Linked DNA regions of Homo sapiens: region 1 is linked to region 2. A link means that fine-mapping ties the variant in region 2 to the expression of a gene that starts in the linked region. Tissue or cell type: caudate. Region 2 holds a variant in brackets; the other region holds the start of a gene. All regions are shown on one strand. Distances are between the middles of the regions.

Region 1 (5,152 bases), 310 kb after region 2:
TTGGGTTTTGGCCAGGATGATGAACTATACCTATCTCTCCTTACCACAACTGGAAAGTCAAGAACAAGAAAGAACATTGGGAGCAGCAAACCATGTTGAACAGAGCATGGGCTTTGGAGTCAGAAATCTGTACACCCAAACCTCAACTCAACTTATAATCTATGTGACTTTAAGTAGATTGTTTAACTTCTGTGCATTTTAGTGTTTTCTTCTAGAAAAAGAAACAGGAATAATAGTACCTACTTCATAACACTCAAGATAATGCAACAAAGTATTTATGATGATGACTAGGACATTATGTGGGTTCAATAAATAGCAGTCATTATTGTCACCCAATGAGATGACTACAGTTCAGATAATGTGATGCACGGGGACAGCAAATGCATTTCTTAAGAAAATATATCGATGTCTCTAGGCTTTAAAGTTGACAGCTATAGACTGTAGCTAAGAATAGCTACAAACAAAACATCTGCAAGACAAGCTTCTTCTTGGATTTAAACTCACACCTGGAACATACCATCACACTTCTTTGTGTTCTCCAAGAATTGATCTCAAATCAGGTTCCCTAGGATGAAAAGAAAAATCATCCAATCTTAATTTTTGCCTTCAATTTTATTTGATACAGAATAATATCCAAACTATGTGTATGTTTCAAAGTATCATGTTATTATGACCCCAAGCTTCTCCACCCTATTTATTTCCCAGTATATTTGTGCTGATATCTTTTATTCCAATCAGGCAAGCCCACCTGTCTCACAGTGCTCCCTCTTCTGTTTACCCTTCTCAAAGTCCAATCTCAGTAGCAGGAAGCATTTTCTCCCTCCTCTTTGACAACTTCAAATCCCCTGTACTCTGCTGGAGCCCAGATTAAAATTCACCTCCTTCACAAAGCCTGAAAGCCGGATGAGGGCTTCAGCACTTCCCGGGTTAGGCTTGAACTTCCATAGATGAACTCACCACCCCCATCAGTATGCTCTTCCACTGACCCCTCTTAGCGTTTTTTGCACACGTTTGTAATAATACAATGATTAATATGGTCTGTTTCACACGGTCTACTTTATTCTGTAGAATAAAGGTGTGCCCCCTAAATGTTTGTCAACATTAGTGCTATCAGTCTTTGCTGGAAACCCCTAAAGCGCTGGATTTTTATAACCAGTCTAACTTGCCTTTTACTCTCACCAGAACCCTGCACTGAACCTTAAACACACATTTCTCAAAAGCAAGATTCCTTCCCTCTTTTGCTTCCCATCCCTTCTAGAAATTGAGGGGAAACTCTCCCCACTTCAAAGACCTGGTGGGGGAAGTGGCAGGTGGCTGAGGGGCCAGTAAAGAGATGGCGATCAATTAAGGAGGCAAAAAGAGAAAGTTTGAAAAAAAAAAGTCACGCCCTGAGCGTGGCAAGGAATTCCCATGCCCCAAAGAAAATGGGGAGTGTAGCGCAGGGAGGGTTATGTGCCCAAACCTGAAATACAAATTGAGGGAAAAGAGGAAAGAGATCACCCAATTCCTGCGGTAAGAATTAGAGTCCAGTCACCGCCTAGGCAAAACCCTGGACGCAAACCCCAACTTCGGACCTCTGAGGAGGCACAGAGCCAGGGGGAGGGGGGCGGCGTCGTGGGAAAAAAAAAAAGGGGCGGGCGAGTTGGACCAAAAAAAAAAAAAAAAAAGAGCAAAGACAGCGCGCTCCCGGGCTCAAGAGAACTGGCGCCTAGAGCTCAAAAGCCCACCCCCGACTCCCAGTCCCGATACCCCCTCCCCTGCAGAGGTGGAGCTGGGTGGAGTTAGGCGCTGAGGACCGCGGCCCCGGAAGCACCCTCCTCCCTAGGCCCCCTCAGTCCCACAGTCCCCAGCCACGGCCACCGGGGCTTTCTGCCTCTCTGACCTCCAGCTCCCCGGCTACCGAAGCGCTAGTCCTTATACAGCCGCGGAAAATCGGGCCGGCGCGGCAGTTCCTGGGCTCGTAGTGCCCTCGCGGCGCCCCACGCCGCGCCACTCTCTTCCGAAATGCCCGCCTCGCGCTTCCAGGCCTAGACCCGGCACTCTGGCCCAAGGCTGGACTCTCACACACAGGGTGCCCACTGCGGCGTCTCCTATTGGCTACTGGTCACCGGGGAAGCCGGAGGCCCGAGCCCATGGCTTCATGGGAAATGTAGTTTGAGGTCGCTGGAGGCTGTTCTTCCTGGGGGTAACTCGTGTTGACATTGGCAGACAGACACAAGTGAGGACCGAGAATTATGGGAGATGGAGTTGCGGGACACTTATTTCTCTATACGCACAATTCTTCCCCTCCCCTTCCGATTGTCCCCAGCGTTCAGACGGGGAAGGGTATTCTGGGTATTGTAGTTTGGGTGCACTGTCTAGAGAATCTCTCTTGGGGTTATGGGTTTGTGCTTGTGGGGACAGACGAAGGCTCTAGATTTATTTTCATGTCGGTTAAGCTCTTAGCATTTTGCGGGAAGCACTTTCTATCGTGATTTGAAATTGTTATTGAGTTTTAAGTGTTTTTCAAAAGATGATGTTTATTCTTTGGTAAGCTTAGAATTTTAATTGAGAGTTATAGTCCTTTAAAATTGTTAAAGTGTGTTCCTTGTGAACCACCTGCATTAAAATCACTTGAAAGGTATGGAAGAATGTATATATTTTTTTCTAATTGGAAATTATAGTTCCCCCTGGAAACAGTGTCATAAATAGGCATAGAAATGTGATCTACACCAGCCCAGAAGAAGCCTATTTAATCCATAATGAAGCTATGTTGTTGCCATGAAAAACAGTGGCCACATAAACTGCTATAAATAACAATTTAGAACAGATAGACAATACAACTTAAGTACAAACGAGTAACTATATGTGTCTTTAAGAAACTTAACCTTTTGAGTAAAAATATGTTACAAGAGCTGGATAAAGACATAGGTGGGGAATGCCAAGCACTTCCAAGTGACTTAAAGGTTGAGGAAAATGGTTGTTTATTAGGGCTAATTTCACTCCCAACTTTTGACCTTTTTTTTTCTCTGTTAGAGATGAATCCTTGTAGCCTTGTTACAGTTGAATTACTACAACTTCTTGATGAGGACAACTTTTCGACTCACGAGTAAAATGAAGGGAAAGACAGGGGAATTGCATTTTGCTGAGGTAATTGCCCAATATTTTAAAAAGATAAGTGAAGGAGGAAGACGATTTAATAAATTCAACCATTTATTCAGCATAGTGCTTTGTGCAAAGCTCTGGGCTAGGCACTGTTGCCACAGAATTGGAAAAATAGTCCCTACCCTCAAGTAGCTCAAAATCCAGGTGAGGGGAGTTGTAGTAGAGGAGAATCTGGGGGGAGGAATAGATGAGTATACAATGTGCAAAATGCTGTAAAGAAGTCTACATAGGGTTCTATAGGAACATAGAGGAGGAAGAACTTGTTCTACTTCTGGAGAACTGGTTGAAGAACCAGTAAAATATTTGTCAGATTTGGGGCAGGGAGGTCAACCATATTCTATACAAAGCATATGCAAAGGCATAAAGGCATGAAAGAGTGCAGAGAACAATAGCAAAAGTTCCATATTGCAGAGACTAGATCAGGCAGCAACAAGGGGTCATATCAATTAGTTCATAATTTAACTTGAAAGTGGGAGAGAACCATCAGAGGAATTTTTGTGCTTATATAGTGTTTATTTTTTAAAGCATATACACATAGAACATACTGGGAACACATAGCTAGGGTATTATGGGGAATCATTCTGGAGGGTGGTAATTGAATTGCTATATTATGTTTTAATACTTTTTATACTTTTAAATTCCTCCAGGAAAATAATTTGCTTTTTTAAAAAAAGAAAAATCGGCTGGGTGCCGGGGCTCATGCCTGTAACCCTAGCACTTTGGGACACCAAGTTGGGAGGATTGCTTGAGCCCAGGAGTTCGAGACCAGCTTGGGCAACATAATGAGACCTTGTCTCTACAAAAAATCAAGAAAATTAGCCAGGCATAGTGGCGCATGCCTGTAGTCCCAGCTACTCAGGAAGCTGAAGCAGGAGGATCCCTTGAGCTTGGAAAGTTAGGGCTGCAGTCAGCCGATATTGTACCACTACACTCGAGTGTAGTGGGTGATAGAGCAAGACTCTGTCTCAAAAAAAATTAAAAAATTAAAAAAAGAAAGAAAAAAGAGAAAAAGAAAAATCACCTCATTTCAGCCATAAAAAGGAGTGAAACAAGGCATTTTCAGTATTATGGCCACCAGAAAAACATTGTGTGAATCAAATGCAGAATTTCTTTTCTCAGCTTTGTCTCCTTTCTTTTTATCTTTTTTTCCATGACTCTTTACTTTGATTTGATCATTGATTTCAAAGTATTTGCAGAGCACCTACTATGTTCCATACACTATGACAGGTTTTGGGTTTTAATGGTGAGTTAAAACATGGGTTCCTGTTCATCAAAGTATTTCTAGCAGGAAATGGAATAATCAGATGGAGTTGGTAGATGTGGAAAGTGAGAGACGGGGAGGAGTCCATTACGACTCCCAAGTTCTGACTTGGAAGACTAAGTGTATGGTAGTACCATTCACTGAGATATTGAACCTAGAAAGAATAGCAAGTTTTGTGAAGAATAGGAGGAAATCAGTTTTGAACATTTAAAATTTGAAGAGTCTGTGGAACTTTTGGTTGGAGATGCCTGATAGGCTGCTGAGAAATGCCGGTCGGAAGCTTGGGAGAGAGGTCTTGCTTGGAACTAAACATTTGGGAGACATTAGTATAATATAGAGGGCAATTAAATAAGTGAAAAATTGTTTAAACTTTACTTAGAGAGTATTTTTTTTTTTGAGACGGTTTCTTACCCTGTTGCCTAGGCTGGAGTGCAGTGGCACAATCTCGGCTCACTGCAACCTCTGCCTCCTGGGTTCAAGTGATTCTCCTGCCTCAGCCTCCCGAGTAGCTGGGATTACAGGTGCCTGCCACCACAGCTGGCTATTTTTTTTTTTATTTTTAGTAGAGATGGGGCTTCACTGTGTTGCCCAGGCTGGTCTCGAACTCCTGACGTCAAGTGATCCACCCGCCTCAGCCTCCCAAAGTGCTGGGATTACAGGCGTGAGCCACTGTGCCCAGCCAATTTAGAGAGTATTTAGAATAATAGTTTTTAAAAAGACAAAGATTATGGAATCCTGGAAAATAAT
Region 2 (5,152 bases):
TGTGTTATTCGTTTTTATTTTTGTGGTTTTTTTTTTTTAGACTGAGTAACATTTTCTTCATCACTCATGTGGCATTTAATAGTTACTGTCTGGTGTTGATAGTATTTTTTTTTCATGTGTGGACAACTTATTTTCCCATCTAGACAGGGAACTCTTTGAGCACAGGGACTGTCTCATATCTATTGTTTTCCTTACTGCAGCTGGTGATAAAAATATCACCACTCCCCAGAGCTACCACTTATTGAACCCTTGATATATTCTAGGTACAGTGCCAAACACCTTACATATATTATCTTCTCATTTGATAATCATAGCAATTCTGTGAGGTTGTTATAATCTCCATTCTACAGATTAGGCAATTGAGTCAGGCAGAGGTTGAGACATCTGCTCAAGGTCACATAGCAAGTGGCATAGAGGGGACTCAAAAGCAGGTAAGTCCGACTCCTAACTTGCTTTTTTTGTTTTATTTATTTTTGTTTTTGTTTTTGTTTTTTTTGAGACAGAGTCTCGCTCTGTTGCCCAGGCCGGAGTGCAGTGGCGCCATCTCGGCTCACTGCAAGCTCCGCCTCCTGGGTTCACGCCATTCTGTTGCCTCAGCTTCCCCAGTAGCTGGGACTACAGGCGCCCGCCACCACACCTGGCCAATTTTTTTGTATTTTTAGTAGAGACAGGGTTTCACTGTGTTACTCAGGATGGTCTTGATCTCCTGACCTCGTGATCCGCCCTTCTCGGCCTCCCAAAGTGCTGGGATTACAGGTGTGAGCCACCACGCCCGGCCCTAAACTTGATCTTTTAACCACTAAAGCCATTGCTTCATTATGTACTGTATGCTAGTATGATGTGTGTCTCCTATGCATATAGTGGGCTCACAATAAGTACTTTTGATTAATTAGCCTGTAAAATGCAGATAATAAATTCTACCTTTATCTCATAAAGTAAGTCCCACAAAAGTGCTTGGAAAATACCCAATGTTCAATAAATATGACACATTTTTTGGAATATTTGTTTATGGATTGTGCAAATGACTGAAAATGTATGGTGGTAATGCTGACATTCACAAGTTGACTGTCGCATAATGCTATCATCAAGTGTCATAATGGAAAAGTTCCAGCCTTTCCTAAGGACTACATTTTCTCTGAGACACTAAAATCTGGAGTTGAAGAATTCTCCAGAGGCTAACCTCCATGTAGACCTTTCATGCCACCTTGCTGAAAAGATATTCGTCTACAATTCTCAGCGGCTTTCTTCCCCACTCCTGAAGCTTCTATCGACAACATCCCTCTCATCTCTTTCTCTCCCTTTCTGTGGATGCAGCTCGGCCTACCCGACATCTAACCATGCTAATAGCCTCTCAGTTGCTATGGGGGTTCTTTGGAATAAGTCAAGCTGTTGGAAGCTTTGTCTGGGCAAAGTGTGTAGCTGACATCTAAAGGAACTATTCCCTGAGGTCGGGCACTCATCCCAACAGAAAAGGAAGAGCTGCCAAACCTGGAGGCAGTGCGCAGTGTCGTGTTTTCAAAGCTTGCTGAATTTCGAATAGCAAATCTGACCATGCATACAAAGAAAGGTGATTTAATATTCTGACTACTTCTTCCCTCCCCTAATACCATCTGCAGCAGAGACACAGTAGCCCTCCTCCTTTTTATTAAAACCAAGACTATTGTCTCACTAAAGTAAAAGATCCTCATGTCTGGTCCCAGAATTCTGTGTGTTCCCTACCCAAGGCAAGAATGGACCCAAGGTGCAGACCACTTAGCAAGCACGTTTATATTCAGGGAAGTGTGCAGAGACAGAAGAAGGCTGCAAGTGAATCTGCTAGGGGTAGATAAGAGCTGCAGGTCACCAGCACCACATGTGACCTGCTTGTGATATAAGCCACGTGCTTTATGCTGTAATTCTTGTTTTACAAGGCAATAAAGCAGGGGATGCGGGGCGGGGGTGGGGGGACAAAAAGTGCTTTTCAGTGAGAGTGTATTTTGGTCACGTCGTCCGCCCTTTTCTTTTCTCTTCATAAATCCGGCATGACTGGTTTAGTCAATTGGAAGTTTT[G/C]TGTATTGTTTGGCTTATGTATGCACAGTGCCTAGGCTCTGTCTCATTATGCTGATGTTAGCACAAATTACTGCATGTGAGGCTCCGTCACCTAGAGAGGGACACAGGAAAGGCAACATGTCACAGAAAAAAGAAAATTAAGTTAGGTGTTTACCCTTGCTCTCCACCTCACTAAAATAGTATAAACTTTGATGACTGATTGTCTTAACATCACATTTAGTGTTTTTAAAAGATGTTTTCTGTGTTTAACAGCACAGTCTCTTGAGTCAGAAAATTTTAAGTTCATATCCCAGCTTTGCCACTTGCTAGCTGTTTGGCCTTGGGTGATTATTTAGCCTCTCTAGGCTCTGCTTTCCTTATCTGTAAAATGGTAGTTTGATTCCTAAAACGATGCTATTAACTGCTAACCATATTGCTTCATTATGCCCTATGCAAGAGGATACTGGAGTTTTTGGTTAAGATTAAATCAGATACTGCATGAAAAACATTTGATACAGTGCTTGGCACATAGTATTTTGTAAATGCTTTCATTGCTTTTTCTGGGGTTACCAATACCTGGAGAAAGTATATGGACTGTGCCGAATAAGAGTAGGCGAAGGCATTCTGAATGGAGGGAGAAATTTGGGGAGAGGTGGGGAGCAGTGTAGTCTCATGGTAAATACCATGAACATTGACAGCTTCACCTATTACCAGCTCTGTGACCTTGGGCTAGTCACAACCTCAGTATTGAGCCTCAGTTTCCTCATAAGTAAAATGGAGCTAATAATAACACGGTTGTCATGAGGATTAAATGACATATAAAACACTGAGCACGGGCTGGGCACAGTGGCTCGCGCCTGTAATCCTAGCACTCTGGAAGGCCAAGGTGAGTAGATCACCTGAGGTCAGGAGTTTGAGAACAGGCTGGCCAACATGGTGAAACCCCGTCTCTACTAAAAATACAAAAAATTAGCTGGGTGTGGTGACGGGTGCTTGTAATCCCAGCTACTCGGGAGGCTGAGGCAGGAGAATCACTTGAACCTGGGAGGCAGAGGTTGCAGTGAGCTGAGATCATGCCATTGCACTCCAGCCTGGGCAACAAGAGTGAAACTCTGTCTTGAAAAAATAATAAATAAATAAATTAATTAATTAATTAATAAAACACTGAGCACAGTGTTTGACAGAGGAAATGCTTAATAAATATGAACTGCTGTTATTTAAAATTATTTTTCCCTTTGTAGTTTGACACCCCAAGTTAGGAGCACAACAGCTAGGTGGATGCCAAGATATTGAGTTGTAGAGCATGCATAAGGCCGCTGCCGAGTTCAAAGAGCCTGGAGAGGAAGAGGCCAAACTGTAAGATTCATCTGCCCCAAGCTCATCAGGGCCCACATTCAGCATGTTGTCTAGGACATCAAAATAACTTTTGATGGGTCCTGGACCCATGACCCATGCATGCCATTTTGGACAGCATTTCGCAGGTCTGAGCCTATTTATAAACACTGTTTATTCATGAATTTTAGCCACTTGGAAAGCCTCCTGAATCACATGGGACCAAACCCAAGGCCTTTGTAGCAAGGGGCAGAAACTTAGCCATTTTTCTTGATCTACCAAGCCAGACTTTTTGCAAAGAGTTTTGAATATTTTGGAGAATCCGATGAAGGCCAGGGCCTCTTTCCCAAAAGAATGCACATAAGCCCTAACCCCCTACTTCCCTACACAATTTAGTACACAGTTTTGGAGTTTTGGAGAGTTCAAAGTCTTCATAAAGTCTGCTATGGATCCCATAGGGGTTCATGGACCTCAGGATAAGAATCCCTGGATTAGTGGAGGAGGACCTTTTTAAAAATTATAATTATGGGATTTTGGCCATACAGCCCATCACTCCTGGCTTCAGGGCAGATGAACAGTAAATTCATAGACTGAAATATTTCAATTTAAGTATGGTTTGCTTTTTTCTTTTCCAGAAAGAAATACATGAGGATTCACCAAAGAAGTTTGGTTTCAAGAGTCAAAATAAAAAGGCTAGTTTACACAAAGTGGGTTGTGGGATGCTTGTCTAAATTCTTTGATTTGGTCTTATCTGTGGCATCCTGGCATGAAACTGCCCAAGGGAGACTTAATCAAATCCTGGGAGATTGGCTTATAGAAATATATGTTTTTAATACTTACCTGATATACAGGGATGAAAATTCTAGTTAACAATCCCTCTCTAAACATACACACCTTCTTCTTCACTAAAGAAAATAAAAGTCCTAATATGAAGTGTTGCAGATGTTCTGACAGCTCTAGTATTTTGGCACATAAATGGATCTGTGAAAAGCATATTTCTTTTTTGTTATTAAATCAGAATTTCAATGTGTCCTACTTGCTACTGCTGAATGGTGCATTTGCCATACAGATGTTGATGCATAATCAATGAACTTTTTTAAAATGCCAGTGTTCCCCATAGCAGAATCATCATTCATTGAGTAGGGAGGGAGGCAGAGCTGAGCCAAGAGAAACTGATTCTTTCTTGAAGAATCATGCTGATTCTCTGGGGTCCACTGTACACTGGTCTTCAGAGTTTGAGAAAACTTGTGTCAGGGGTCCCCTATATAAAAGATCAACAGAACATGGACCATAACTAAAAGATGTTTTACTGGTCTCATGTTTTGCTAGCCTCTGTGTGTTTCGTCACATGATCAGCTTGTAAAGTCCTTAAAATGAACTAATAAAACATTTAAGTGTAGGTAGTTATGTAGAGCCCCCAAAAGGAGGGAAGCTGAGGAGGTTATGGCCCCTTCCATAACCACAATTATGGGAGAGGAGAGGAGATAGCAACTATGGAGAGGAGATGAGACAAAGCTGAGGTTTTGTAGCCTACAGCAAAGAAAGGAGCATGGAGAATGGCCTGGAATTGAGAAGGGACCCTTATAGTCTTTCATTCAGCCTGGAGATAAACATCATACATGAAATTGTCCAAGAGAGAAGGAACCCACCAGAATTCTGTGTGGATTTTCTTCTCAGATCCCAAATACTCCCAAAGGCTGCAAATAGAAACAAAGGTGATTTGATAGATGAGACAGCTTAAAAATTTTCTGACTACAAAACACCCATTGCTGGATAGAATATTTCATTTTCA

Evidence for each region. PIP is the estimated chance that this variant, and not a neighbour inherited with it, causes the effect.
Region 1: it holds the start of ENOX2, and the variant in region 2 is fine-mapped to the expression of ENOX2 in caudate (GTEx, PIP above 0.99).

What each region holds. Positions count from the first base shown.
Region 1 is chrX:130,901,167-130,906,318 of GRCh38, forward strand. ENOX2 (ecto-NOX disulfide-thiol exchanger 2) reads right to left here and starts at 2,043. Exons shown (of 15, transcript NM_006375.4): 1 at 1,883-2,043; 2 at 518-565. RefSeq lists enhancers at 1,409-1,928, 1,789-2,058, 1,929-2,448, 2,069-2,258.
Region 2 is chrX:130,592,753-130,597,904 of GRCh38, forward strand. No RefSeq gene overlaps it. Among named protein-coding and RNA genes, the nearest start is that of RBMX2, 190 kb to the left of the region's middle. RefSeq lists an enhancer at 1,749-1,893 and a cis regulatory region at 1,813-1,830. The variant G/C (reference allele first, on the strand shown) is at 2,050.